Homo sapiens: one gene and its partners. The protein of the gene in region 4 purifies or fractionates together with the protein of the main gene of each other region. This does not show direct contact. Each region holds a gene or a part of one and is shown on either strand. Other genes may lie near its edges.

Region 1 (2,254 bases), on a different chromosome or scaffold from region 4:
TGCACCTAAAATGTTAAGGTAAAGAGTCATTTACATGTGAGCAATAACTAAGAGATCTGAAATAGTTTCTAGATTACTGGTAACACAGCTCATTTCCTAATTCAGATTTTAAAAAATCTGGAATGCCAACTGGACATAGATTTTAGAGTTCTGTCCAGGGTTGTACTCTTCCAGCAGAGACTATGAGTTTCCCATATCAGTGTCATCAAAAGAAACTTGACAGTGTTACAAAATTACCTCCTGTGAAATAGCAAGACTATTTCTTATGGAATAAACAAGAAAGAATCTTGTTCTACCGAATTCTTGACTCACCAACACAATTTTTTTTTTTTTTTTGGAGACAGAGTTTCACTCTTGTTGCCCAGGCTGGAGTGCAGTGGCATGATCTGGACTCACTGCAACCTCCACCTCCCAGGTTTAAGCAGTTCTCCTGCCTGAGCCTCTCGGATTACAGGTATGTACCACCACGCCCAGCTAATTTTTGTATTTGTAGTGGAGACAGGGTTTCACCATGTTGGCCAGGATGGTCTCGATCTCTTGACCTTGTGATCCACCCACCTTGGCCTCCCAAAGTGCTAGGATTACAGGCGTGAGCCACCGTGCCCAGCCAACACCACAAAATATTATTAACATGTCTTGCTAGTGAATTTTTTTTTTTTTTTTTTTTTTTGAGACGGAGTCTCACACTGTTACCTGGCATGATCTCGGCTCACTGCAACCTCCGCCTCCCGGGTTCAAGCGATTTTCCTACCTCAGCCTCCCAAGTAGCTAGGATTACAGGCACCCGCCACCACACCTGGCTAATTTTCTGTATTTTTAGTAGAGACAGGGTTTCACTATGTTGGCCGGGCTGGTCTTGAACTCCTGACCTCGTGATTTGCCCGCCTTGGCCTCCCAAAGTGCTGGGATTAGAGGCGTGATCCACCGCGCCCGGCCTCTGGCTAGCGATTTTTAAAGAGCACTAGGGATGTAGACTGAATGATTTATTATTTGTAGAATTTAGAACAATGCCTGGTACATGGTAGTCACATAAATTATGTCATTAAGACCAAAACTTTCAGCCAGCCACGGTGGCTCACGCCTGTAATCCCAGCACTTTGGGAGGCCACCAAGGTGGGAGGATTGCTGGAAACCAGGAGTCAAGACTCACCTGGGCAACAACTTATCTTTACAAAAAAGTAAAAATAAAAAAAATTAGCCAGTCACAGTGGCATGCACCTGTAGTCCCGGCTACTCAGGAGGCTGAAGTGGGAGGATGGCTTGGGCCCAAGAATTTCAGGCTGCAGCGGGCTACGATCATGCCACTGTACTCCAGCCTGAGTGATGGAGTGAGACTTCATAATAAAAAAAAAAAAAAAGAAAAAGAAAAATACCTAAATTTTCTCATCTCCTACTATAAATGTATGGAACTGGAACAGATTCACATATTACTAAAATAATTAATATATTTCCAAGAGAATGACAGTTATTTATCTCTTACCATTTGTACTAATGCACACAGCTTGATCCCGCTGCAGAGAGTCATATCCATCCTGTTTTTCTGCACACACTCCTATGCTATCTCTTCTGTCTGGCTGTCCCACAGTTTCAACTCTGTAAATGAAGTAGAAAGGTCATTTCATACTTTTAAAAATATAACATGAATGATACTTAACAGCCACTAGCTTAAAAAGAGCAATCTCACCACAATTGTTTTTTTCTAAATAGTACAGCAACCATGATTGAGTTCTTGCTATACTCCAGGCACTGTTCTAATTATTTTATATCTATCTATCATTCTTACAACAATCTATGAGGTAGGTGCTTTTTCTTTTTTGTTGAGACGGAGTCTCGCTCTGTCACCCAGGCTGAAGTGCGGTGGTGCGACCTTGGCTCACTGCAACCTCCGCCTCCCGGGTTCAAGCAGTTCTCTGCTTCAGCGTCCCAAGTAGCTAGGATTACAGGTGCCCGCCACCATACCCGGCTAAGTTTTCTATTTTTAATAGAGATGGGGTTTCACCATCTTGGCCAAGCTGGTCTTGAACTCCTGACCTTGTGATCCACCCACCTCGGCCTCCCAAAGTGCTGGGATTACAGGCGTGAGCCACTGCGTCCAGCCGGTAGGTGCTATTTTTAACATACCCATTTTATAAGTGAGGAAAATGAGGCACGAAAAGAAAAAAAGATTAAAAATAGCTAAATAACCTGATCCCGACTACCTGGCTGATGACTGGTGGAACCAGGACTCAAACACAGGCATTCTGACTCTAGAATC
Region 2 (3,500 bases), on a different chromosome or scaffold from region 4:
CTTGGTATACATTTAATCCCAGTCTTTTTTCTCCAACTCATTTTAATTGGCGATGATTTCTAAGGCAATGACAGGCTTTATGCCCTGTTCAAACAGGGTCAGTCCTGAGGCAAGTGTAGCCCAGAGTCGGTGACCTTCTCTGCTTGCATAAGATACCAGGCTGCATCCGTGGACGCAAACAGTCCTATTTCCACATTAAATGTCTAAAACAGATAATGACTATTAACCTAAATTGGACTTAAAAAATTAAACTGAACAGATTAGTCCCTGCATATCCTCAAAAATCAGAGAAAGACAATAATCCTTTAAACTCAAAAGGAAGCATCGCAGTGGAACGAGCTGTCAGAAAACCTGTTTTGGTCCAGGGTCATCACTATCTTACCACGTAACCACCGACATGTCATTTGAATTTTCTGGTCCTTAGACTCCAAAGATAAAATTAATGGGTTTGATAGCTATCTAAGGTTCCTTTCAACTCTAAAATTTCATGATCCATTTGTCATTTTCAATTCAAGTACTTTCGGATATCGTGATAGCAAAAGTTTAATTTGCATTTAGAAACGAATATAAACTATGAGATTGAAGAGATAAAATGGACTTTTAAAATTAATGCAGCATGGGTATGAGAAAGAAAATAGAGAATGCTGTAGAATTAGGGACTTTTTCCCTTAGCACATTATTATAAGCTACCTGACAATACCATTAATTTTTTTTCCTTTTTACTCTACACAATAGCACATTCGTATGTCTGAAACTATAAGGATCACAGCCATAAGGCTGAATGTCAACTGTCAGAGGGCAAATGCGAATCGGCTACAACACTGGAAATCTGAGCCTGGAACCTGTAGGGTCACGTGGGGGTTATCTCACAGCGCTCACCTTCCACCAGTTGGTCCAGGCTGGAAATCTTCTTGAGCCCATCAATGGTGTAGATTGTTCTCACTCCCTGGGGCAAATTCACGTTATCCGACAGAGTTCGGGTCAAATCAGCCAGCAGGGCCTCAAAAGATCGGAACCGGTCTGGGGAGATGGCATACACAATCCCTTTGAAGTATCGATCTCCGTTTCGATAGAAACGAACTTTCTTGGCCTTCTTCTCGGAGCTGAGCGTCTGCAGCGTGCGGGTGCGGTAGAAGCTGCAGTGGGCGCTGTGCGTCGGGCTCGGCAGGCCGTTCACCCGCGACCCTCGGCTGTATCTCTGCGCCTTATCCCGCTCGTCGAAGTGCTCCAGCTCCATGTCTCTGCCGAAGGACATGATGGACTTCAAGTAGGACCTACGAGCCCCAGAAACAAAAGCAGACACACATATTGATGTAGGTTATATATATATATATATTTTTTTGTTTTTGTTTTTTTTATGTTAGGGACAGGGTCCTGCTCTGTCACCGGGCTGCAGTGAGATGGCACTCACTGAAGTACTCACTGAAGCCTCACACTCCTGGGCTCAAATGATCCTCCTGCATCAATCTCCCAGAGTATCCGGGACTACTACAGGTTACAGGTGCCTGCACCACGCCTGGTTAATTTCCTTCATTTTTTGTTCATTTGCTTGTTTTTAGTAGTAGTGATGAGGGTCTTGTTTTATTGTCCTGGCTGGTCTTGAATCCCTGGCCTCAAGTGATCCTCCCCCGCCCCCCAACCCCTTTGGCCTCCCAAAGTTTGGGGATGATGTTATTTTGAGATCATGATTTCAAAGGGTCTGCTTCAGAACAGCTGGGTGGAAATATTGCTTTAACTGATGACACATTTAATATGAGTTATCAAGTGGGACAGAAAGAGAAAGGGATGTGAATTCCCACAAAATAAACACAGGCTCCTCTGCACGCTGTCAGCAGAAGAGGCCGATCCCAGTGGAAACAGCTTATTAATCAGCCACAAATTTGTTAGAAGCAGCTCCTAGGTTGCCCATGGTTCATCAGGCTTCAAACAGATATTATTCCCAATAGACACAACAACTTTCCAAAGTATTGTCCTTCCTTACAAAAGAAGAAACTGAGGCACAGAAAAATTTCCCCTAAATTGCTCCAAGTAATACAGTTGAGAAATGCTTGTACCAGCAACTCTGTTCCAGGTTTCCCTGACTCCAAAGCCCACTGCTCCTTGCAGGGCAGAGGGCTAATCCTGGTAGCAGGAAGAAAATAAGCTCTCATATCATCATACAGTGAAAGAGAAGTAGCTATGGTGGGCTGGGACAGAAAGAGAGGGCAGGCAGCATAACAGTCAGATTGTAAAAGTTTTACATAATGTTTGTGTGCCCCATGGCCAGATGGAGAGCAAATTAAATCAATCTGTAGGTTGGACCAACTTAAAGAAGATTTTCCAACATATTCACACATTCAATATTTTTAAAAGCAAATTCACTATACTTCATTTACTTATATTTAGTACTTCAGAAAAGTTGAGTTTAAAAAAAGAAGAAAAAGGAAGAGAAGGAGGAGAAGGAAGAGGAACAACAAGAAAGGAAAAAATGTTTGGAAGTACATTTCTTGGTTCTTCCTTTCATTAAGACTATCTTTGTGATTGAAGAAATTGAGGCTTAAAGATGTCGATTTACACTTGACCCCATGCTAGCTGTGTAAGCTTGAAAAATCTACTTGCTCAGCATCTTTAAGCCTTGATTTCCTCAACCACAAAATGGGAATGAGAACAGTACCTACCTCACAGTCAGTATTAACTATTAAATAAATTCATGCACATGAAGTTCTTATCATAGTGTCTGACATGTGATAAGTACTAATTTTTTTATTAATAAAATCTGTTTTTGTGTTCCTGGCCCTGACACATAAAGAGCTAGCAGGAATAGAATCTTTCCTTTCTGGCAAGAGAGGCCCCTGCTTTCTTCCTGATCTCCATCTCATGACCTTTTGAAAGGTACATCTGTACCCCCTGGTCCCCACAGCAAGCTGACTGGAGGACCAGTTCATCCTTGCTGAGGGGTTGGTTGATAAAGGTTTGTGGAGCCTTGCAGGGGAATCTGTGGTTTAACAAGACAATCTAGAAAGTGGAAAGACCAAAGCATTCAAAGGAAAGACACTTTAATGACAAAATTTCAGGCATGTTGAAATAGAATATCAGGAAAATGGAAAATTTGGAGCAAGAACCTTACAAGCACTCCCCAAGTCCCACCATATTAGATGGACATCACCTTTCTGAAGGTCAGTGAACACTCACCAATGCACCACTGTCTCCCCAACCTTTCTTTGGCCCTCAGTAAACTGACCTCTGATCCATTCAGAGTGGCTAAAATTTCACACCTGAAAGCATGACTAGAGATTTGGTACTCCAGAAATGAAGTGAAAGAAAGCAATATTTACTGAAGGTCTAGGAGGTACCTGACACTATTACTCATCAACCAGTTGTATAATATGCTAAAAATTCTCTTCTAAACCTCATATTAATCCAACAAGGTAGGTAATATTATTAATATTCAGGTGAATATGGAATTTATCCAGGGTCCCAAAATTATAACTGAGGGGTTGAGATTTGAACCCAGATTTACT
Region 3 (3,500 bases), on a different chromosome or scaffold from region 4:
ATTGTGAATATATAATCTTATAGTTCTTTTCAAGCAATCTAATAACCTATAATTGACATAATAGACAGTTAATATAGCATTATAGTTGCTGAACAATATTTTAAAGCCTTATTTCAAAGTTACCTGAATAATACCACAGAAGAATATTCCAAATTTTATGGAAAAAGGACAGTTACCTGCTAATGCATAAATTCCTTTAGAACAATCTTGGTTCTTTCCTGAAAAGTCACCACCCATAGTCTATATTTTAAAAAGAAAATAAAGAACAGACATTACTCAGGAATAACTCTTAAGAATTTAGTTCACAGAATTAAGCTATAAGGAAAAGAAACTGTAGCTTCGTACCAGAATGTAACTTTAATAAATTACTTACATGAGTTTTTCCACTTCCAGTCTGCCCATAAGCAAAGCATGTAGCCATTCCCCTTTCAAATATAGTTTCCACTAGTGGTCTAGCAGTAAACCTTAAAAATAAAATGCATCAGTCAGAATGTGTCACCAATATTTTGATGAATAATAGTAATGCTGAGTAATACAAAGTATTTTATTAATAAATAAAACTTAATAGCAAGATTCTAAACAAATCTTTGTTAAAAATTTTAAATAACAATATCGAAGAATTGATTTAAGAATTTTAAATATCATATGCTAAAATTACTTAAACTACTTAAAGCATAATTTCAAGCAATATTTCCATAATAAATAATGGTCACAATAAGGCATATACAATAAAAACAAACACAAAGTATTATAATTTCAACAGAAACAGAATAAACAAGAGTGGTAATCTCAATTTTAAAAAGTTAATAGAGGAAAAAAACTGCAAAAATATTATCTATAGACCATCTAAATAAATAGAAAAATGTTGATTACCTTGAATTTAGACAAGTAATTTATACTTAAGCAAAAAGAATATAAATTGTGCTTGTAGGAAAATGAATTCTATTAGTAAGTTGACACTCTCAATTTAGGAAAAGGATACCTAAATATTATGGTTTGAATTACATTTTTTTTTTTTTGAGACGAAGTCTCGTTCTCGTCCCCCAGGCTGGAGTGCAAATGGCGCGATCTCAGCTCACTGCAACCTCCGCCTCCCGGGTTCAAGTGATTCTCCTGCCTCAGCCTCCCGAGTAGCTGGGATTACAGGCACCTGCCACCACACCCAGCTAATTTCTGTATTTTTAGTAGAGACGTGGTTTCACCACGTTGGTCAGGCTGGTCTCAAACTCCTGACCACAGGCGATCTGCCCGCCTTGGCCTCCCAAAGTGCTGGGATTACAGGCATGAGCCACCGCACCCGGCCTTGAATTATATTTCAAATGTATTGGTATAACCCACTGCTAGAGTTAAAATAAAAAGGTGGGAAGGTATAAGAAGTACTTTTCCCCTGAGCAGTACACTAAAAAGTATGATGGAGGCCAGGCGTGGTGGCTCATGCCTGTAATCCCAACACTTTGGGAGGCTGAGGTGGGTGGATCACTTGAGGTCAGGAGTTCGAGACCGGCCTGACCAACATGGTGAAACCCCGTCTCTACTAAAAATACAAAATTAGCTGAACGTGGTGGCACACGCCTGTAATCCCAGCTACTCAGGAGGCTGAGGCAGGAGAATCGCTTGAACTGGGAGGCAGAGGTTGCAGTGAGCCGAGATCATGCCACTGCACTCCAGCCTGGGCGACAAGAGCAAAACTCAGCCTCAAAAAAACAAAAAAAAAAAAAGATGGAAAACAGATCTACAAGTAGAACATTTTATATAACTGCTGTCTTTGTTTTGTTTTGTAAAAGGCAAAACTGAAGAAAGTACAGAACAAAAGGAGCAGGAAAAAGTTCTGGTCAAACAGAACTAGGGATGAGCCTGCTAAGTAGATCAAACCCCTACCTCCCAACCCTACCCACAAAAAAACATGTAACTCCTCAATCCATAATAGTTAAGTATAAGAGATAGAGGAGAAGGATAAATATTGATAAAGTTAAGAAACATAAACATAGGGTAAAAACACAATGTTTACTAAATCATACACACAGAAACATGCCTGTATTTGTAATAATTTCTTAAAAACTATTATAAAAGTCAAACTTATATTTTATGAGGCAGGAGTAGAAAGAGGGAATGAAAAGGAAAAGTGGACTCTTCAGAAAGCTAAAAAAAAATTCTACAATTAACAATTATGATTCCCCTTTAAACATATTCTTCACAAATATCTCTATCTAGTATTCATATGTCCTTTAATTTGATCCTTTTTTTTTTTACAACTGACTACCCAGTACACTTGGTGAAGACAAAAAGAGTTGGTCTCAAAAGTATTTCCTTTGTAACACCTTCAATTCTTAGTCTCATTAACTCTAATTTTTTCCTTTCTAGGCATTTTTATGAAAAAGGGCAATCAGATATAGTATTCAAGCAATTACAAAGACAGTAATATTCCTAGATAAACCAAAATAACAATACTGCTAAAACTGGTGTTATAATTATTAGAAATGAATGTTTGCAAACTTACGTATGAAAATCTAAATCTGGCATAAAAATTTGAGATACCAATGTATAACACAGATAAATTTGAATTATTTTTAAGTTGAATACAGAAAACATACAAGAATCTCATGTACTAAAACTATCTCCAAGCTTAAAGATGACAAATTTAAATACAAGTACGGAACTTTTTCGCCTTAAGTGACAATACATACTAAATACAGATTTAGATAAATTAATAATTAACTGATAACAGGTATTTTGGCCAGGCATAACAGTGGCTCATGCCTGTAATCCCAGCACTTTGGGAAGCCAAGGCGGGCAGATCACTTGAGCTCAGGAGTCTGAGGTTAGCCTGGGCAACATGGCGAAACCTCAACTCTACAAAAAGTACAAAAATTAGCTGGGTGTGGTGGTGCATGCCTGTGGTCCCAGCTACTCAGGAGGCTGAGATGGGAGGATCACCTGAGCCTGGAAGGTCGAGGCTGCAGTGAGCTGTGATCGTGCCACTGCACTCCAGCCTGGGCAACAGAGCAAGACCATGCCTCAAACAAACATTTCAAGTTTCTTTATTAGTACAGAGATTAAAAGGTAAAAATTAAAAGTCTTCTTATCATATCCTATTCCTAGAGGTAATGTTAACATTTTCCCGAAATTTCTTATCCATATACATGGTTTGTGTGATATGTATATATATGTATATATATGTGTAATAAGCTAATTAGCAAATAGTAATGGAAACTATGATTTTGGGGAGCATTACAGAGAACAAGTGTTAATATTCATTACAGCATTTATTACATTCTCTTTGTTTAAACTCAGAATAAAACAGCATATTGCACCTCTTAAGAAATATCCCACAATCAATGTAAATTTCAAGGTGCTGATGACCACATGGCATAAGAACAAAATTCTGATTTAAAATGAATTTACCTACCTGTAAACCATTTCATTAGGAGCTGAGTCATCAAAGGCATAATCAAAACGAAATGTTTGGTTTTCTAGGTACCTTGTTAAATCTACTTTTTGTT
Region 4 (4,160 bases):
ATTCTGATTTTTCTCTGAATTCCTTATGGTGCTTCCCTATTAAAAGCCTAACTGTCCTTTCTATTACAGCTACCAGCATGACACAGTATGCACAAATCTGAATAACTCAAGTGTTAATAATAATTACATGTTTAAGCCAATGATGGAAACTGGGCAAATGTCTGGGATTAGTGGGAGTGGGCTTCTCTTCAGCCATTTCTCTCATGCAGGTCCCTACACCTTCAGGAAAACTTCTGTGAAGGGGCTGTTCCTGAGATAAGAAAAGATGCTGGTAGAGGGGCTTGGATAAACACCCAAAGTTGTAGGAAGTCAGTGTGTTCTTCCCACTCTGATGTACTGGCCTGAGGTCACCAAAAGCTGGATGTCTGCCACCTCAGCCAGGACTCAGCCACTATGAACAATACTACAACACCACTTCAGTCCAGTGAAGAGACACCCTTGAAAGGCAAACCACGTACAGAATGCTACTGCATTGTAAGAAACTTTTCTAGGCAGGATTTGCTGAATCCTGGGCCATTAGTCTACAAAAATGTGCAAGATAGTGTTTTCTATTTTCATAAAGTTTCAGAGAAAAGAACGACTTTAGCACAACTGTGCTAAAGCAATAGTAATGACTTAAAAGCAGAGAAAAGTATAACAAACTTAGTGACATACAGATGAACGAATTTTGCACCTCATGGCCACCCATTCAGACTGGGCAAAAAGGGCATCATGCCATTCAGCTCCCGCTCATTAAGGCTGTCATTTCTATGGCACAAGCTTCAACCTCATCACCAAACAATTAGCTAACTTTATAATACAAGGTCCGTAATGCTGCGGTATTACCACACCTACGGCTGTCAAACAGCCTTTTTAAAAAAGGAATCATTGCTTGAATGTGGGGGACAAAAAAGAAGAATCAATACCATTTTAATGAAACCGAGCATGGGCCAATTAAAATGTAGATGATCATACAACAGCTGCTTGTGGTAAAACAGCAGCAGGCATGGAGGTGTATCCAATTAGGGAGGCCTTGGCTCCTCGGTAAGCTACTTGTGGTTCCCATAAGTGGCTAACGTGCTTCTAGATTTATTTCTGATATTGGGGGTGGAGAGAATGCTATCCCAGCAACACTGCACCAACATGGCCATAAATGCCCCTCAGGCCCCCAGATGGCTAGGGAAACTTTCTGTCCTTCTTGTGTTCACTCTGCACGAGCTGTTTCCTCTGCCTGGAATACACCCTCCAGAGGAGCACAACCTCTATCCTCTAAGTGTAGTGCACCCTTCACCAGGACCAAGCTCGCCTCAGACTCTCACAGAACCCCTCTTCCATGTATTATCATTCTTCACCGGCCTTCAAGTTTCCTCCACTAGGCTGCAGACTCCTGCCCTGTGATCTCATTTAGCATCTTTCTATCCTGTTCCTAGCAGAGTAGAAGCTGGGTTTGTTGGATGAATGAGTAAACTAATCCATTTCAAGAAGTTAACACATTGGTGGAAACTCTGTAACTGCCCGCACCTGCAGTCTAGAGATTCCTCACCTTCACAAAGAACCTGCGACAGCCAGTCCCTAGACTTAAGCGGAAACCCCACAATTTCTGAAATTGTAGGTGGGGATGAGAAGGTTGGAGAACAAGAACCCAAGGAAGTGAGAGGGAAAGGGAGATAGGGGCAGCGTTACCTCACTGCTCTCTCCAAACGAAAAGGTGTAAACCCCATTTACAAGTATTCAAACCTGAGATCTGGGGGTCACGTGGGGAAGGAGAGGCTGTTAATACCTACAACTTTGGAAGTTTGAGGTGAAGACCTGATCTGAAATTGTTTGGCCACAGCTTTTTTTCTACGAGCCAGCTCGACCACCCAAGTAGGAGCCTCGACGCCCAGGAGTTCGGTGGCACCACTGGGGCCTAGTGAGAGGGCAGGAAAACTCCGCTCCCCTCAAGATTCCTTCCCGGTGGTGGTGGGGTGTGATTGGGAGCGTCGGGCAGCTGCATCCCCCTACCGCTGCAGCGACCGCGACGTCGTTCGTCTTTCATCCTCTAGCCCCCAAGGTCTAGGTATCTCTAGTTGCCCTTCCGAGGCCCTCTCTCGTTCCCAAAACGCAGAAGGGAATGGAGAGAGGGGACCAGGGTGTGGGTTTAACCACAAACTCCCCAGACTGCGCTCACCTTCCAGCTCGCTCCCGGGACCAGCTTTGCGCCTCACCGCGGGCAGCTCCCACCGCGAGATAACACCCCTGCGGCCCGGCCACCCCGCGCCCCAGGCTGCCCTGCCAGGCGTCCCGGGGCGCCAATCGCAAGTTGGCGTTGCCAGCGTCTGCCCAAGTCATCTGCAGGGCGCCCGGAGCGCCAAGGCGGCCTCCAACCTCGGGCCCAACTCCCGGCTTGGACGGGGCTTACCTGCTTACATGGCCCCCGTGGCGCCCCGGAGTCCCGCGCGGAAAGGCTGTCCTTCGCGGCGGCGGAGCCGATTCCCCACGGAATTGATTCCAGTGACTGGCGGAGGAGGGGCGAAGGGAAGGAGCCGCAGGAGGCGAAAGGGGAGGGAGGTTTCCGCCGCGATCCCGGCGCGAGAGTCCGAGCAGAGGCGCACCGGGGGAGAAAAGGAGAAAAACCTAAGCACGGGGCTGTCCCGCCCGAGGAGGCCGGGGAGGATGGCTCAGCTGGGAGGGGAAGGAGCGCCAGTGGCCACTTGATGTCTGTCTAGGGCTCCCCGAGGACCTGAGCCAGGAGAGCAGGCGGCTGAGCCCGGAGAAGCACAGCAACCTGCCCCCGAGTCTGCGCCCGCTGCGCTCACTCCGCCGAGAAAAAGTTGGAAAGAACTTTGAGGGGCCGGGAGAGCCAGAGCGGCAGGAAATGCGAGCGGCCGGGAGAGGAGGGAGGAAGGGGCCGTGCGAGTGGGAGGGGACGGAGCAGGCGCCGGCGGCCACGGCTCCCCCACCCCAGAGCCGGGCTCCGCGGCCCTGGGGGCCGGGAGGCGGAGGGAGCGCTGGGCGCGCGGCCGGGGGCGGGGAGGAATGCGGCCCGGGAGGGCGCGCGCCGGGGGCGCCGCGGGCGCGCGCTGAAACGTGGAGCCCCAGCTCCCGAGCTCCCGAGCTGGAGGCGCGCCGTCCTTGGGGACGTCACAGCGCTGGAATCCGAGGAATGCCGGGCTGCAGGAGCTCCTTCTGCAGGCCCGGAGAAGTCGCACACTTTTAATGGGGTAGTTTTGGAAAATGTTTTAAAAGGTGGGGGCCGAGGACGGAGGACCGGATGAAACTCCCTGGAGTAAGAGACGTGGAAGTGGAGAGAGCAAGGCGACCGCAGCCACCCCAACCCTGGGCTGCTCCCGCCGTTGGGGAGAAAGAGGCAAGGCAAGGAAGAGCCCACCTAGACTTCCGAGGACCGCAGAGACGGGGCGGCGGCAGGAACTTGCTCACCCCGACCTACATTCAGAATAGTCCACCTTATATTGGGGAACCCTCCAAGCAGGACGTTTCATGCAGCCACCCCACAGGGGAAAACAGACCAGGAGAAAGTAAGGTGGCCTCACCAAGTAGGCAATCTCAGAGATCTCTCCCTAGAATCTCTGGGTACTGGACCCGGTGTCTTAGCCTTCTCTCCCTGCCCCCTCCCGCCCCGTAGGAATGATAAAAAGCAGCCTGTGTGCTGAGAGTTGGAAAATGTCGTTTTCCCGGTTTGTTCCATGCCACAGAATCGCCCCACCCTGCCTGGGTAGGCACTGGGAGGGAACTTCCTTAGCACTTTCGGAGGTGGAGTTAATGAGACGCAGCTGGTATGATGGAAAAAGCTCGGAGCCAGGCGACTGAACCTGGGTTTTAGGCCCTGCCCGATTGGATAACTGAGGAGTATCCCAGCCCCTGAGATCCTAGGTTTCTGTAGCTGCAAAATTAAATAATTTGTCTAGATTTCTGTGGTCCTTTGCATTGCTACAAACATGTCTTGGGATTTATCTCGGTAAGATTCCAGTCCTTTGTTGAAAAGGGACCTTGAAGTCGTTGGCACACAATGTATTGTCCCAAATCACTTCAGTGTCCGGCAACTCATGCAAAAATTCCTGGCCTCTTGGGGAAGAGAATTGGAAACCAAAAAGCGCGGTGGCTCACACCTGTAATCCCAGCACTTTGGGAAGCCAAAGCTGGGGGATTGGCTGAGCTCAGAAGTTCGACACCAGCCCGGG
Region 5 (3,500 bases), on a different chromosome or scaffold from region 4:
ACGCAAATGAACTATGCTTCAAACGGAGAACACTCTCATTATTTGTCATACAAATAAATGAATGTCAGAAGAAATTTCGTGACAACTATATCTAAAAAACTATAGAATATACTATACCATGTCAGAAGGGAAGAAAGTGGCAATGTTTCACTAGATTAAGATGAAGTTCCTTTCACTCTTCCTTAATTATTATGAACTAGTAATTAACAAATTACGATTTAGCCATATAATTTCATGTATCACGTATTCTATCTACTATCATTAGGCACAAAAAAAATTAAAGAAAGCTAAGAAGCAAACTGAAGAAAAGATAAGTGGATTTAAAAAGCATCAAGTAAATCACTTCTCTGCAATTTCCCCAGCTTTGTGAATCTGTGAATAACTGAGATTTTTTCATTATCAACTTTCTATAACTATTAAAATTGTTTCACACATGAATACGGATGCTCCTTAACCTATGATAGGATTACACCCTGATAAATCCATTATATGTTGAAAATATCTTAAGTCAAAAATGCATCTGATAACTCTCAACCTACCAAACATCATCGCTTAGCCTACCCTACCTTAAGCATGCTCAGAATACTTACATTAGTCTACACTTGAGCAAAAGTATCTAACACAAAGTTTATTTTATAATGAAGTGTTGAATATATCATGTAATTTATTGAATACTATATTGAAAGTAAAAAACAGAACAGTTGTATGGGTACTCAAAGTAAGGTTTCTACTAAATACATATTGCTTTCTCACCATCCTAAAGTCAAAGAATCTTAAGTTGAACTATTATAAATTGGGAAAAGTCTGTATATGAAACCATCAATATTAGCAGAAATTTAAAGGTTAAAAAGTAATAATGCAAAAACTGGTTTTGGATTTAGTTTTTGTCAAAAGCGAAAAATAAATATTTTCCTGCTGTTTGCTTACATTTATATTTAATCTCCTGTCATGTTATAATTAGCTACTTCCATTTCCATTTCCCTCAAAATATTGTAACTCTTTGGAAACAATGGTTTTCAGCCCCATTTTCCACCTGTTGAATTATATCTATCCATGCCTAAATAAAATACGTTCCTATTAAAATTCTCTAAAGGACTTATTTAAGAAATCTGTCAATCAATAATAGAACCTACAATAAAATCTTGAATTATTTGTCCAAAAGTAGAAGCCTAGATAATGTAATATCACATACCAAACAAAAATACATCTTTTTAACTTTGAATTGTGCTCTCAGGTTTGCAAGTGAATATAGCTGTATTATAGCTTCACAGTTGTAATGGAAATGTGTCTCTATGAATGATCAAAAAGAGTGTTTCAATACCATAGTTCCCTAATTAATATCATGATCAATTACTTTAACGATGAAGAAAGAAAGTGACTCAGGTTTTTGAAAAGTCCAGTAAGAAATCAGTGAAGAGCACCAAAATGGTCCAAGTAGAAAGACTAAAGCCTTCTCTTTTATTAAAGTGTAAACTGGGAATGCAAAGTGATTGGCTCCTTCTGTCAATCAGAAAAGCAGGGCTGGTATGGTTTTTACACACAGCTCTAATTGCTTCTTCTTCCTCTTCAATTAGCTAATAACTGAGAATCACACAGGAAAAAGAAAAAATAAAAGAAACAATTGAATAAAAGAATTATTTTTCAGGAAAATCTATGATACCATAGAGAAAGCTATGCTTAGGATCAGAATATATCAAAAATACAGTAATCAGACATGATTTTTAAACATTCAACATTCAGGTATCAGAAATTTACATATGAATTTCAATAAATTATAAATTACATACCTTGGTTACATCAGATTAAGTTCACCTCAGACTAAGCTCTTTGAAAGTTATTGGTAGGTGTCAATAAACCTAAATAGCTTATGAAATTACTTATCACAAAGAAATGAAAATTCTGCTCTGCCACTAGTATCTTCAGAAAAAGCAGTAAGAAGAAAAGAGTTGCTTATGTACAGTTTTAATTCTATTAAAAGGTATAGTTTTATATTAAAGACTACATTATTTATTCTGTACAGTGATTCCATATTGAACACTCTCCATCAAACCTTGCATCTCACATGCCACAGGCATCAACTAACAGATTTCCTCATTAATTTAAGAATGATACAACAGTTTTAACGCTGACTTTGATGGCTAACAACAAAAGATAATAGATTTGCCTTTAGTTTTATTGGACTAAATTTACATATTAAAGAGTCTACAAGAATATCACACCTCTCAAAGATACATCCCTTTGGCTGACTTTAATAAATTCCTCCCATATTTGAATTCTGTACCATCCCTAACTCTCATTCTAGAATACCACTCCCTCTATCACTATATGGGTAATCTGAAAACCACACTCAAACCACACTGTGACACAACTCCTGTTCTCCAGCTTTGCCATACATAACCTTCTAAACCCCTCCTCTTCCCATCAAGTCCCCCAGAGAATTTCTAAGATTACTAACACATACACACACACACACACACACACACACACATACACACACACACATTTAAAATCTCAGCCCTGCCATTTACTAGTCTGTAACCTTGAACAATTTATTTAGCCTCTCTGTACCTTAGTTTCCTCATCTATAAAATGGGAGTAGTAACTACCTCACAGGATTATTATGAGGATTAAATGATCTAATATTTGTAAAGCACTTAGAATAATGACTGACACTTACTGTTTACTGTAATTACTATTAAATATTTTCAATATTACTTTCAAAATGTATAGATTTCACCCCATTAGATTTGAGGATATCATAAAAACAAACATCACTCTTTTTAGAGTGATTCAAATCTCTCCTAGAAACACACTCAAGCAGAAGAGAGCCACACACACACACACACACAAACCTCCAGTGCACAGTATACCAGAATCTTTGGAGAACAAACTTTTGCCCGCTAAGAATGTTATTGTAGAGAAAAAGCTTATGGCAAAATGGGTAATTCAAGCAGAAGTGAAGCACAAACTAACAATTTGCCTGCTACTTTTACAATGAGCAGAGGCATGATATGCAAAAAAAAATGTTTTCAAGGAATTATATTTTCTTGAACAGATTTGAATCTGAAACCACTCTGGAAAGCAACTTGCTCACTTCCTGGACCAATCCATTTACCATGGAAAAAAAGCTTTGCTGAAGTTAGGAAAAAACACTTTCTTTGTACCACTCACTAAAAGTAAAAGTAGTAAGATGATCCCAAATGTTCGCTATTTTATAAATTCACATACTTCTAAATACCAGTTTTTCAATTAGTTAGTTAATAGGAGAATAAATCCCAAAACTCATCAGCAAATTTTCTTCAGATTCTCAGTGGCCAATAATCTCCTTTAAAGAAAACCTTTCTTACTTAAAAAAATACTACTACTATAAGGAAAAAAATAAAAAGATACTAGATGCTATACTGATAATTACTCTAAGTTCAGTTCACCCTCTGAAAATGTAACCTATTTCCAGACAGCTAAATGTGCTTCTCTACCATAAGAACAAATTTCCCTTACCA
Region 6 (4,252 bases), on a different chromosome or scaffold from region 4:
AGTAGAACAATTATCTTCAAATATCTGTGAGAGATGGTGTTTATGAGACACTTAGGGCAAAAAGGCAATCATCCTCAAAAAAGAAACTGACAACTGCAGCGGCTACCTGCTTTTGTAAGTAAAGTTTTATTGGCACCAGGGCCAGGATTAAAGGGAGGCAAACAAGGCTGAGTGGTGCAAGGACAAGGGTCTGATCATGTCTTAAGAGTTTTAGTGTTTTGGCCAGGCAAAACACCAAAACTCTTTGGCCTGCAATCCCAGAACTTTGGGAGGCTAAGGTGGGTGAATCACCTGAGGCCAGGAGTTCGAGACAAGCCTGGCCAACATGGTGAGACCTCATCTCTACCAAAAATACAAAAAATCAGCCTGGTGTGGTGGTGGGCACCTGTAGTCCCAGCTACTAGGGAGGCTGAGGCATGAGAATAGCTTGAACCCAGGAGGCAGGGGTTGCCGAGATCATGCCACTGCATTCTAGTCTGGGCAACAGAGAGACTCGTCTCATAAATTAAAAAAAAAAAAAAAAAGTTTTGGTGTTTTGGCCATATGCGGTGGCTGACACCTGTAATCCCAACACTTTGGGAGGCCTAGGCAGAAGGATCTTTTGAGGCCAGGAGTTCAAGACCAGCCTGGGCAACATAGTGAGATCCCCGTCTCTAAAAATAAAATAAAAAATAAAAGTTTTGATGTTTTGTTCATCATAAATGTTTTCATTAATTTTATGTTTTTAAAATATTATTTCTCTTGATGGCTGAGTTTTGTGGGGCCACCTTAAATTTTGCACAGGGGTGAGATCCTCACTCGCCTCACCCTAGAACCCGTTCTGCTGTGTGTACTGGGCACATTTTTTGTTGTTGTTTTGTTTTTGTTTTTGAGACAGAGTCTCGCTCTGTCGCCCAGTCTGGAGTGCAGCGGCGCTATCCCGGCTCACTGTAACCTCCGCCTCTTGGATTCAAGCGATTCTCCTGCCTCAGTCTTCTGAGTAGCTGGGATTACAGGCGCGCGTCACCACCCCCAAGTAATTTTTTTTTTGTTTTGTTTTGGTTTTTTTTGTTTAGTAGAGACAGGGTTTCACCATGTTGGCCAGGGTGATCTCGAACTCCTGACCTCAAGTGATCTGCCCACCTCGGCCTCCCAAAGTGCTGGGATACAGGCGTGAGCCACTGCGCCCGGCCAATGCGCTGGGCATATTGATTAACCTATCTTAGCCTCAGTTTCTTCATCTGCAAAATGGGGCTGAACGATGCTGCCTTACTTCTGAGAGGATTCATGCAAAATATTTACTTCTGCGCTCTGCTGGAGGGGCGGGGCCAGCTCGCCCAGTGGGGGCGGGGCCCTGTGGTCGGGCTCCCCGGGAGGGGCGGGGCCAGGCCGTGTCAGCTGACCGGCCTGGCCAATGGCACCTGGCGGCGGGGCCTGGCAGGCCGGGGCGGGGCCGGGGGCGGGCCTGGCGGCGCGGACTCCCGGGCCATGGACGAGTCGAGCCTCCTGCGGCGCCGCGGGCTCCAGGTGAGGCCCCTGCGCGGGCGGGCGGAAGGCAGAGGGCGCGGCCAAGTGGACGCGGCCTGAAAGGTGCCGGGAGGGGCGGGGCCTTCACGGGCTGTAGGGAAACTGAGGCAGAGGGTGGGGAACGCTCAGATCGCTTCTTTTTGACCACCCGCTTCTCAAAGTGCTTTTTCTCATGGTGGGAAGGGGGAAGGTGCCCCCTTGGACATCTAGGGAAACTGAGGCTCCAAGCGATGGCGTGGGAGGAAGAGGCTGAGGGCTCTGCCCCTCCCCACCAGCTGTTCTAATAATAATGCTAGCAACAGCAGCCAGAGAGCTCACCATATGTTCATGGTTGTTTTAGTCCTATTACTAGCGATGTATTAATATGAGTTCATATGTATTAATACCTCCTTGGGTCGTCGCTGCACCACTGTACACCCTCAGCTCAGCCCTACGACGACCTGGGGAGGTTGGGGCTGTCAGGCGCCCATTTGTCAGAATAAGGAAACTGAGGCTCTAGTCCCGGAAAGCCACTCTCCAGAGGTCGCCTAGCTGGGATTCGATCTGCGCCCTCAACCAGCTCTCTTACGGCACAAGGCGCTGCCAACCAGCAGTGTGACCTGGGGGGAGGGCACCCTTGCTTCTCTGGGCCTCAGTTTTCCAATGAGCCATAGGGTCCTCCTTTTACTGAGTTTATGTTTAGGAGGCTGTGTCATCAGGAGGTAGGGACACAGGCGTCGGGGACAGCAGAAGCCTAAGTTTGAAGCCACACAGGGACTACATGACCCCGGGCAGCCACCCTTTGACTTCTCTGGGCCTCAGTGTCCCCATTATAAGAAAAGAAAAACAGGAATTAAGATTTGGCCATTTTCCTCTGGGACTTAGACCACACCCTTAAGAAGCCACCAAGTTTTCAGGTAGGGAACCTGGGATTCAGCACTTACCCAACGAACATTTATGGAGCGCCTGCTGTGTGCCTGGCTCTGGAGAGGCAGCGGAGTGTTCTGCAACCTCTGGAGCTGCCCTCCTAGAAACCCCAACCTGTTGGGGGAGGTAGACGCCAGAGCAGCGGTGACCCCACGGAGTGATCAGTTGTGATAAGGGACTCACAGCAAGTGAAGGAGGCGCCTGACCCAGTCATTGCTGGGAGCCCTGGGGTAGAGGAGGCAGCCAAGGGTGGCGAGGCATTGCAGCGGGGGGCGGTATTTAGGGAAATGAAAGAGGTTGACAGAAGCTGGAACCTAGGGAGGACTGAGCAGGTGGGGTGGGGGTCGGGGACTGAGGTTAGCTCCGGGCGGGTTGAGGGGGTGAGAGGAATGGGGCCGGCGGGTCTCCAACCTGGAGCCGCACCGGTAGCTGCGGGACTGCGAACTCAGCAGGTGATGGGAAGCCAGGTCGGGAGTGGTCAGGGAAGGCACGGGCTGAGCTGCAGATCAGAGACACCCGGTCTCTGGCCGCGCGGGGGTGGGGCAGAACTGGAGGCGCTGAGGCCAGAGGCAAGAGTGGGGGACTTGGGCGGAAAGGAGGGGGCGGGGCGGGATTGGCGAGCAGCGTGGTGTTGGTGGGGGGGCAGTCCCGCCTCCAGCCCCAGTTAGATGCCAACCCGCCCGCAGCCTCTTAAAATAGAGAAACCGCCTCCGGGTAGGCGAATGGGGGTGCTGCTGACGTCAAGAAGTGGGGCCTGTTCCATGGTGGGGGGGTCAAACATTTCCTGATGGTAAGTTCTATGTTACAAAAGGGGAAACTGAGGTTCAGAGAAGCATAGCCACTGTCCGGGTTTCACAAAGTATAGGTGACAGAGTCAGACAGGATTTGAACCCACGCAGTTCCGGCTTCCTCTCCAAACCAACCCAGCACAGGCGTCCCTCCACGAAGGTGGAGGGATGAGCACGGATTCCCCGACTGAATGAGGGCATTCCGGGCAGAGGCCACAGCACGTGCAAAGGCCCAGAGGCATGTAGCCTTTCTTACCTGTTTATATGGGGAAACAAGAACTTGAACCTATTTCTTAGCACTAGAGGCTGATGGCCAGGACTTAATGCTTCCAGGGCCTTCAGTGCTGATTTTGAAGAGGTTAGACTTTCCCCCTAGGGTGATGGGGAGCTATGGAAGGTGCTGGAGCAGGAGAGGACATGCCCATATTGAGGGGCTGGGAAGACTCCTCTGGAGGGCTAGGAGCAGGAGTGGGGGAATCAAAAAGGGCAGGAAGCCAGGAAGGAGCATGGAATGAAAGTCTAAGTGTACCAGGTGTGGTGGCTCATGACTGTAGTCCCAGCTACTCAAGGAGGCTGAGGCAGAAGGATCTCTCTCTCTCTCTCTTTTTTTTTTTTTTGAGAAAGAATCATGCTCTGTTACCCAGGCTGGAGTCCAGTGGCGCAATCTCGGCTCACTGCAACCTCCACCTCCCGGGTTCAAGTAATTCTCCCTGCCTCAGCCTCCCGAGTAGCTGGGATTACAGGCACATGTCACCACGCCCGGCTAATTTTTGTATTTTTAGTAGAGACGGGGTTTCGCCATGTTGGCCAGGCTGGTATCAAACTCCTGATCTCAGGTGATCCGCCCACCTCGGCCTCCCAAAGTGCTAGAATTACAGGCGTGAGCCACCGCGCCCAGCCAAGAAGGATCTCTTGAGCCCAGGAGTTTGAGGCTATAGTGAGCCATGATCACGAGACCCTATCTCAAAAATAAAAATAAAGGTCCAAGTGGAAGAAGATTAAAATAATAATAAAATAATAGTAAAGTGGGAATAACCGTTCATATTAACAGG
Region 7 (4,293 bases), on a different chromosome or scaffold from region 4:
TGCCCACCTCTGCAGCAGGGGAAAGAAGTCCTCTCACCCCAGTTTGAGGGGAGAGGGGAGGTCCAGTGTGGGGACCAACACGAAGGTCACAGCAGACAGTGGAGTCATGCCTGAGAGCCAAGGAGAGTCCCTACCAGGTCACCTGTCTCCCAGTAGCACCACTTACCTGGGGTCGAAGGGCCCCAGAAAGTTTCCATGGTTCCTGGCTTCAGTAAGGGGCTGAAGTCCAAACAAGGAAAGATGACTCAGAACCGGGGGGCCTCCTGGGCTCTTAAGTCCAAATCATGAAGAGTTCAGCCTCTGAAGTCCATGGGCTGGGGAGGCGAGCACGGCCTGCTGCTGTTCCCTGATCCTCCTCCTCCCAGTCTCAGTCTGGAAAAGCCCCGCACCACCTTTGCTGAGAACAAGGCCACACCATGACAGGATGGCCTGCCAGGAGCCCCAAAACCCTATGTTGGGGTGAGGGGAAGGAGAAGCAACAAGACTGGCCTCAGACATGATGCAGGTGAGAAATGGTCTGGTTTTATTGAGAAGCTGTTGGTCATTTGATGGAAAGACACATACGGTACAAAATTACAGGTGGTTTAGTTCATTACATGATACAAATCATTAGAGTCTTTACAAGTCATTAGAGTCTTTGGATTTTTTAAACTCCCATTTACTGTGTACCAAATCAATATAATCACAGAATCAAAGTCACTTCTTTATATGTGAACTCTTCGCATTTACACGAATCCACACATAGAGAAGCTGTTCCAAGACCCCCCAACACCATTAGTGTCTGCAGCCCACCAGGAAGGCACCACGGACTTTGTGGAGAGAAAGATGCTTTGGGGGTTCAATGGGTCAGTATCTTGGGCAGGAAGCACAGGGTGACTCCCGTCTTGTGTGCGTGCGCACAGCCACCAACACACACTCTCAGGACTTCCCGTTTCACATACAGGGAACTTTTAAGGCAAGAGGAGAAAATGCTAGGAAGTAACGGGGGATCAGAACTCCTCCACCTCTCAGGCTCCAGCAGTCACATTCCCAGCTCCGTTCTCTTGTTGAACCTTGGTAGGCCCAGAAACATCTTCCCCCTCCTCACCTCTGCCCTCCCGCTCCCTCTGGTCAGGCCTGGGTACCCAGGAACCCAGTCACACACCTGCCCCCTGTCCCCTCTGCTGCTGGACGCAGTGCCCGGGGCAGAAGTGAGCCTTCTCACCCTGGAGCCTCAGTCCTTCATAAGGGCCCGAGGGAAGTGGCGGGGTGGGGCCAGGGATGTTCTGGGCACACAATGGGGAGGCAGGGCCCCCAGAAGCATCCCCCACCCCCATCTCTGACAGCGCCGCGTGTGCAGTTACTGCCCTTCCCGGCCTTGGGTGCCATCTGCGGGCCGACCCACACTAAGGTGCCACTCCTGGGGCCTTCCAGGAGCGCATCGGGAGTCCTAAGGCGGGTGGGCGGGCAGGCGTTCTTGGGAGGTGAGTCTGCTGGTCAGGGAGGCAAGAAAAGAAGATAGAAGACGGAGGCCAGCCCGCCCTGGCCCACCACTCTGGAGACCGCACCTCCTGCCTGCCAAGTGCTGGCCCGGGGTCAGCGGGGCTCACTGCCTTGGTGACCACGTCACTGCACATCCCTCTTTCCCAGCCACAAGCTGACATTAGTCCGCACCGAGAAGCAAGAGTGAACAGGGCCTGGGCCCAAATCCACCTGCTCAAGTCAGGAACTCTGGCTCGTTCTACTCCACTGTAAGTCAAACCGATGGTAAAAAGCACGACACACACGTCCCCCAGGACTTTCCCAAGATGGTGCTACAGGAGGCCGCTGCTGGGTGGATGGCTCAGCCACCACGAAGTGCCAGGTCCCACCCACGCTGCCCGTCCGCCACCATTCCCAGAGCGTCCCCACTACACGGCCCAGGCGTTTCCCCTCAGGGCAGCAGCAGTGCTGGCCTCTCACCCAGGCCATAGTGACACCAGCGGACCCAAAAACAAACTTCTCAGTGAAACAGGTTTTAAAAAGAAAGCCGCTGTGCTGGGAAGCGGGTTGAGTTAAAGGGCAAGGCAGAGGTGACAGCTCTTCATCCAGGGACAGGTGCCACAGGGTTCCCTCAAAATCGGCTAAGGACAGGGAGAGCCCTGGAGGAGTGCCTCCCCCCAGGGGCCGGGCCCTCTGCCAGCCCGGCCGCAGCCTTCGTGTCCCTCGCCAACTGGGGAGAGAAAGACAACCTGTCCTCGCAGCCAGGGCTGGGACAGGCCCACCATGGAGACTACTCTGTTGGCGCCTTCAAGTCCCTAGAGAACCAGAGCCTTCCGCAGCGCTTTCTAGATGTTGACTAAATGTGAGAACTAGAAACCAGCTCCAAGGGTGGCTGTGTGAATCTTGACCCAGGACTCCTGTCCCTAGATTGGTGGCCTTCCACACATAGACGCTAACCCCCATCCCACAAACCTGGCACCAAAGGCTCTGGGAGCATAAGTGCCCCAGCCAGGAGGTGGAGGCCACCCCGGAAGCTTCCGGCTGTCCCGCCCACACCATGCACGGTGGGCCTGGGGGCGTGGCTGCTGTGAGGGTCTGGAGACTAACCAGCACACTCCCTGCACCAGCCCAGCCGCCAGGCCCCAGCCCCACACTCTGAGAGTCTGGGAGTTGCCGAGAAGTTAAAATGACCCAAAGACCTTCCTAGAAACCAAAAGTGCACCAAATAAAGTAGCAATGCCTCTTCCTTTGTCACCGACTACAGAAGCACATCATTCTCCCAGGTTTTTGCTCTCATCCAAGTTAAGAGTAAGGCCACTGTGGATCCGCAATAGAGGGATGTGAGGAGGGGGCTTTATCCTCTGCCGTCCCCAGGACCCTCCACCTGGGCAGGAGGCCAGCAGCTCTGCAATGGCCAGAGAGGCTGCAACGTGCAAGGCAGGCCCTGGGCCCCCCCACACAGGCAGACGACGATTGCGGCTCGCAAATGATTTCGGATTTTGAAAAAATAAATATAAATAAATACATTCCAAGCCTTCTGTGAAGGGAATAAACGGCAAACATAAGAGACTTTCCAGGTGTCTAAAGATGCCAAAACATCCACAGAGAAACCGCTAAGAAACCCTGGCAGAGGAGGGATGGGGGGGCTCAGGCCCTCGGCCCCCGTCTGGGGCACCAGGACCATCTGCCAGAGCCCAGGGCCCTCCAGAGGCACTTGTGGAACCTGGGACCAGGGTGGGAGGCTGGGGGGTCCCCCAGAGGCACTTTGCGGGAAACTGGGACCAGGGTGGGAGGCTGGGGGGCTTGCGGAGTGAGCCAGGACATCCTGGGTGGGTGGGGGGGCTTGCCCTCCAGTGGGGAGGAAAGGCACTGGTTACAATTATGGTTTAGGTTAAGACATTAGTGGGGCCACCAGAATGGAAATGATAGAAAGAGCAACATAAGGCCCCAGGCACAGGCACACAGCAAGATCACCAGGCGCTGCACCACCCAGGGTCTCAGTCCTAGCATCCCCCAGCCCCTGCGGGCACCCAGAACCTTCCATCCACCTGAGGAGGCACAGTTGAGGCCCCCACTTTACCCGGGTACAGAAGAAACAAAGCTTCCAGAGGCCCAGGGAGGTCACCAGCCCTGTGTCGTGCAAAAAGCATTCATCGCCCTGCCCCTGGGGAAGGGGCCACCGGGCTCCTGGCTCCTCAGGGCTGTCACTGGCAGGGCTCAAAAGGGGCCGGGCACCCCCAGAAAAGTTCGCCCTAAGGCAGCGGCTCAGCTGGCCCAGGATTTCCGGTTCTCAGGGTTCTTGTGGCTCCTGTCGGCCTTGGCCAGGGCAGCTGTCAGCGAGGCCAGGTTGGTGGCGGAGCCCGAGAGGGTGGCGCTCCGGCGGGCCTCGGGGGCACCCAGCCGGAGTCCTGTGCTGCGCCGCCGCACAGGGCCCGTGGCCCTGCGGACCCGGCTGGGCCTGACCAGCAGCCCGTAGCCAGGGTTACACCTGAAGTACTGCTTCCCGCCGATGGAACCGTCATTCTTACCTGCGGGGGAAGGAGAGGGTGATATGGAGGGCAGCCGAGCTGCAGACGGCCCCCTGCACCTCCCTTACCTCTGCAGAGGCCATGTGCCCACACTGCCACCCCCCCGCACAGGCCCTACACAGCCAGCACTCGGACACTGGCCATTGTCTGGCAGGGACTGGCTAAATGAATGTGGCCAGGGCCTGGGGTGACCGCCTCCCAGGACAGTGAGCAGTGGTGACCAAGGATGCACAGCCCCAGTCCTGCAGCCTCAGGTAGGAGGTGACAGGCCCTGGGGGCCCTGGGGAGTGCCTTGTGGAAGCAT

The links.
Region 1: the proteins of PTPN14 (region 4) and CRLF3 purify together in Homo sapiens (affinity purification with mass spectrometry; one large-scale study listed by BioGRID and IntAct). This does not show direct contact.
Region 2: the proteins of PTPN14 (region 4) and DCLK1 purify together in Homo sapiens (affinity purification with mass spectrometry, with the first as the bait; one large-scale study listed by BioGRID). This does not show direct contact.
Region 3: the proteins of PTPN14 (region 4) and KIF2A purify together in Homo sapiens (affinity purification with mass spectrometry, with the first as the bait; one large-scale study listed by BioGRID). This does not show direct contact.
Region 5: the proteins of PTPN14 (region 4) and ANKRD50 purify together in Homo sapiens (affinity purification with mass spectrometry, with the first as the bait; one large-scale study listed by BioGRID). This does not show direct contact.
Region 6: the proteins of PTPN14 (region 4) and MAST3 purify together in Homo sapiens (affinity purification with mass spectrometry, with the first as the bait; one large-scale study listed by BioGRID). This does not show direct contact.
Region 7: the proteins of PTPN14 (region 4) and KIF13B purify together in Homo sapiens (affinity purification with mass spectrometry, with the first as the bait; one large-scale study listed by BioGRID). This does not show direct contact.

What each region holds. Positions count from the first base shown.
Region 1 is NC_000017.11:30,784,439-30,786,692, forward strand, and holds part of CRLF3 (cytokine receptor-like factor 3), read right to left. Parts: intron 1,594-2,254; coding exon 1,481-1,593; intron 455-1,480; exon of another isoform or gene 345-454; intron 6-344; coding exon 1-5. UniProt on the Homo sapiens protein: May play a role in the negative regulation of cell cycle progression.
Region 2 is NC_000013.11:36,124,883-36,128,382, forward strand, and holds part of DCLK1 (serine/threonine-protein kinase DCLK1), read right to left. Parts: intron 1,275-3,500; 5' UTR 1,256-1,274; coding exon 880-1,255; intron 1-879.
Region 3 is NC_000005.10:62,358,206-62,361,705, reverse strand, and holds part of KIF2A (kinesin-like protein KIF2A), read right to left. Parts: coding exon 3,407-3,500; intron 465-3,406; coding exon 374-464; intron 241-373; coding exon 177-240; intron 1-176. UniProt on the Homo sapiens protein: Plus end-directed microtubule-dependent motor required for normal brain development. May regulate microtubule dynamics during axonal growth. Required for normal progression through mitosis. Required for normal congress of chromosomes at the metaphase plate.
Region 4 is NC_000001.11:214,548,803-214,552,962, forward strand, and holds the start of PTPN14 (tyrosine-protein phosphatase non-receptor type 14), read right to left. Parts: upstream 2,801-4,160; 5' UTR 2,381-2,800; exon of another isoform or gene 2,150-2,380; intron 1-2,149. UniProt on the Homo sapiens protein: Protein tyrosine phosphatase which may play a role in the regulation of lymphangiogenesis, cell-cell adhesion, cell-matrix adhesion, cell migration, cell growth and also regulates TGF-beta gene expression, thereby modulating epithelial-mesenchymal transition.
Region 5 is NC_000004.12:124,706,233-124,709,732, forward strand, and holds part of ANKRD50 (ankyrin repeat domain-containing protein 50), read right to left. Parts: intron 1-3,500.
Region 6 is NC_000019.10:18,096,326-18,100,577, forward strand, and holds the start of MAST3 (microtubule-associated serine/threonine-protein kinase 3), read left to right. Parts: upstream 1-1,452; 5' UTR 1,453-1,467; coding exon 1,468-1,506; intron 1,507-2,429; coding exon of another isoform or gene 2,430-2,440; exon of another isoform or gene 2,441-2,602; intron 2,603-4,252. Other genes in the region: IL12RB1 (interleukin-12 receptor subunit beta-1), read right to left, coding at 2,430-2,440.
Region 7 is NC_000008.11:29,066,778-29,071,070, forward strand, and holds the end of KIF13B (kinesin-like protein KIF13B), read right to left. Parts: intron 3,990-4,293; coding exon 3,727-3,989; 3' UTR 501-3,726; downstream 1-500. UniProt on the Homo sapiens protein: Involved in reorganization of the cortical cytoskeleton. Regulates axon formation by promoting the formation of extra axons. May be functionally important for the intracellular trafficking of MAGUKs and associated protein complexes.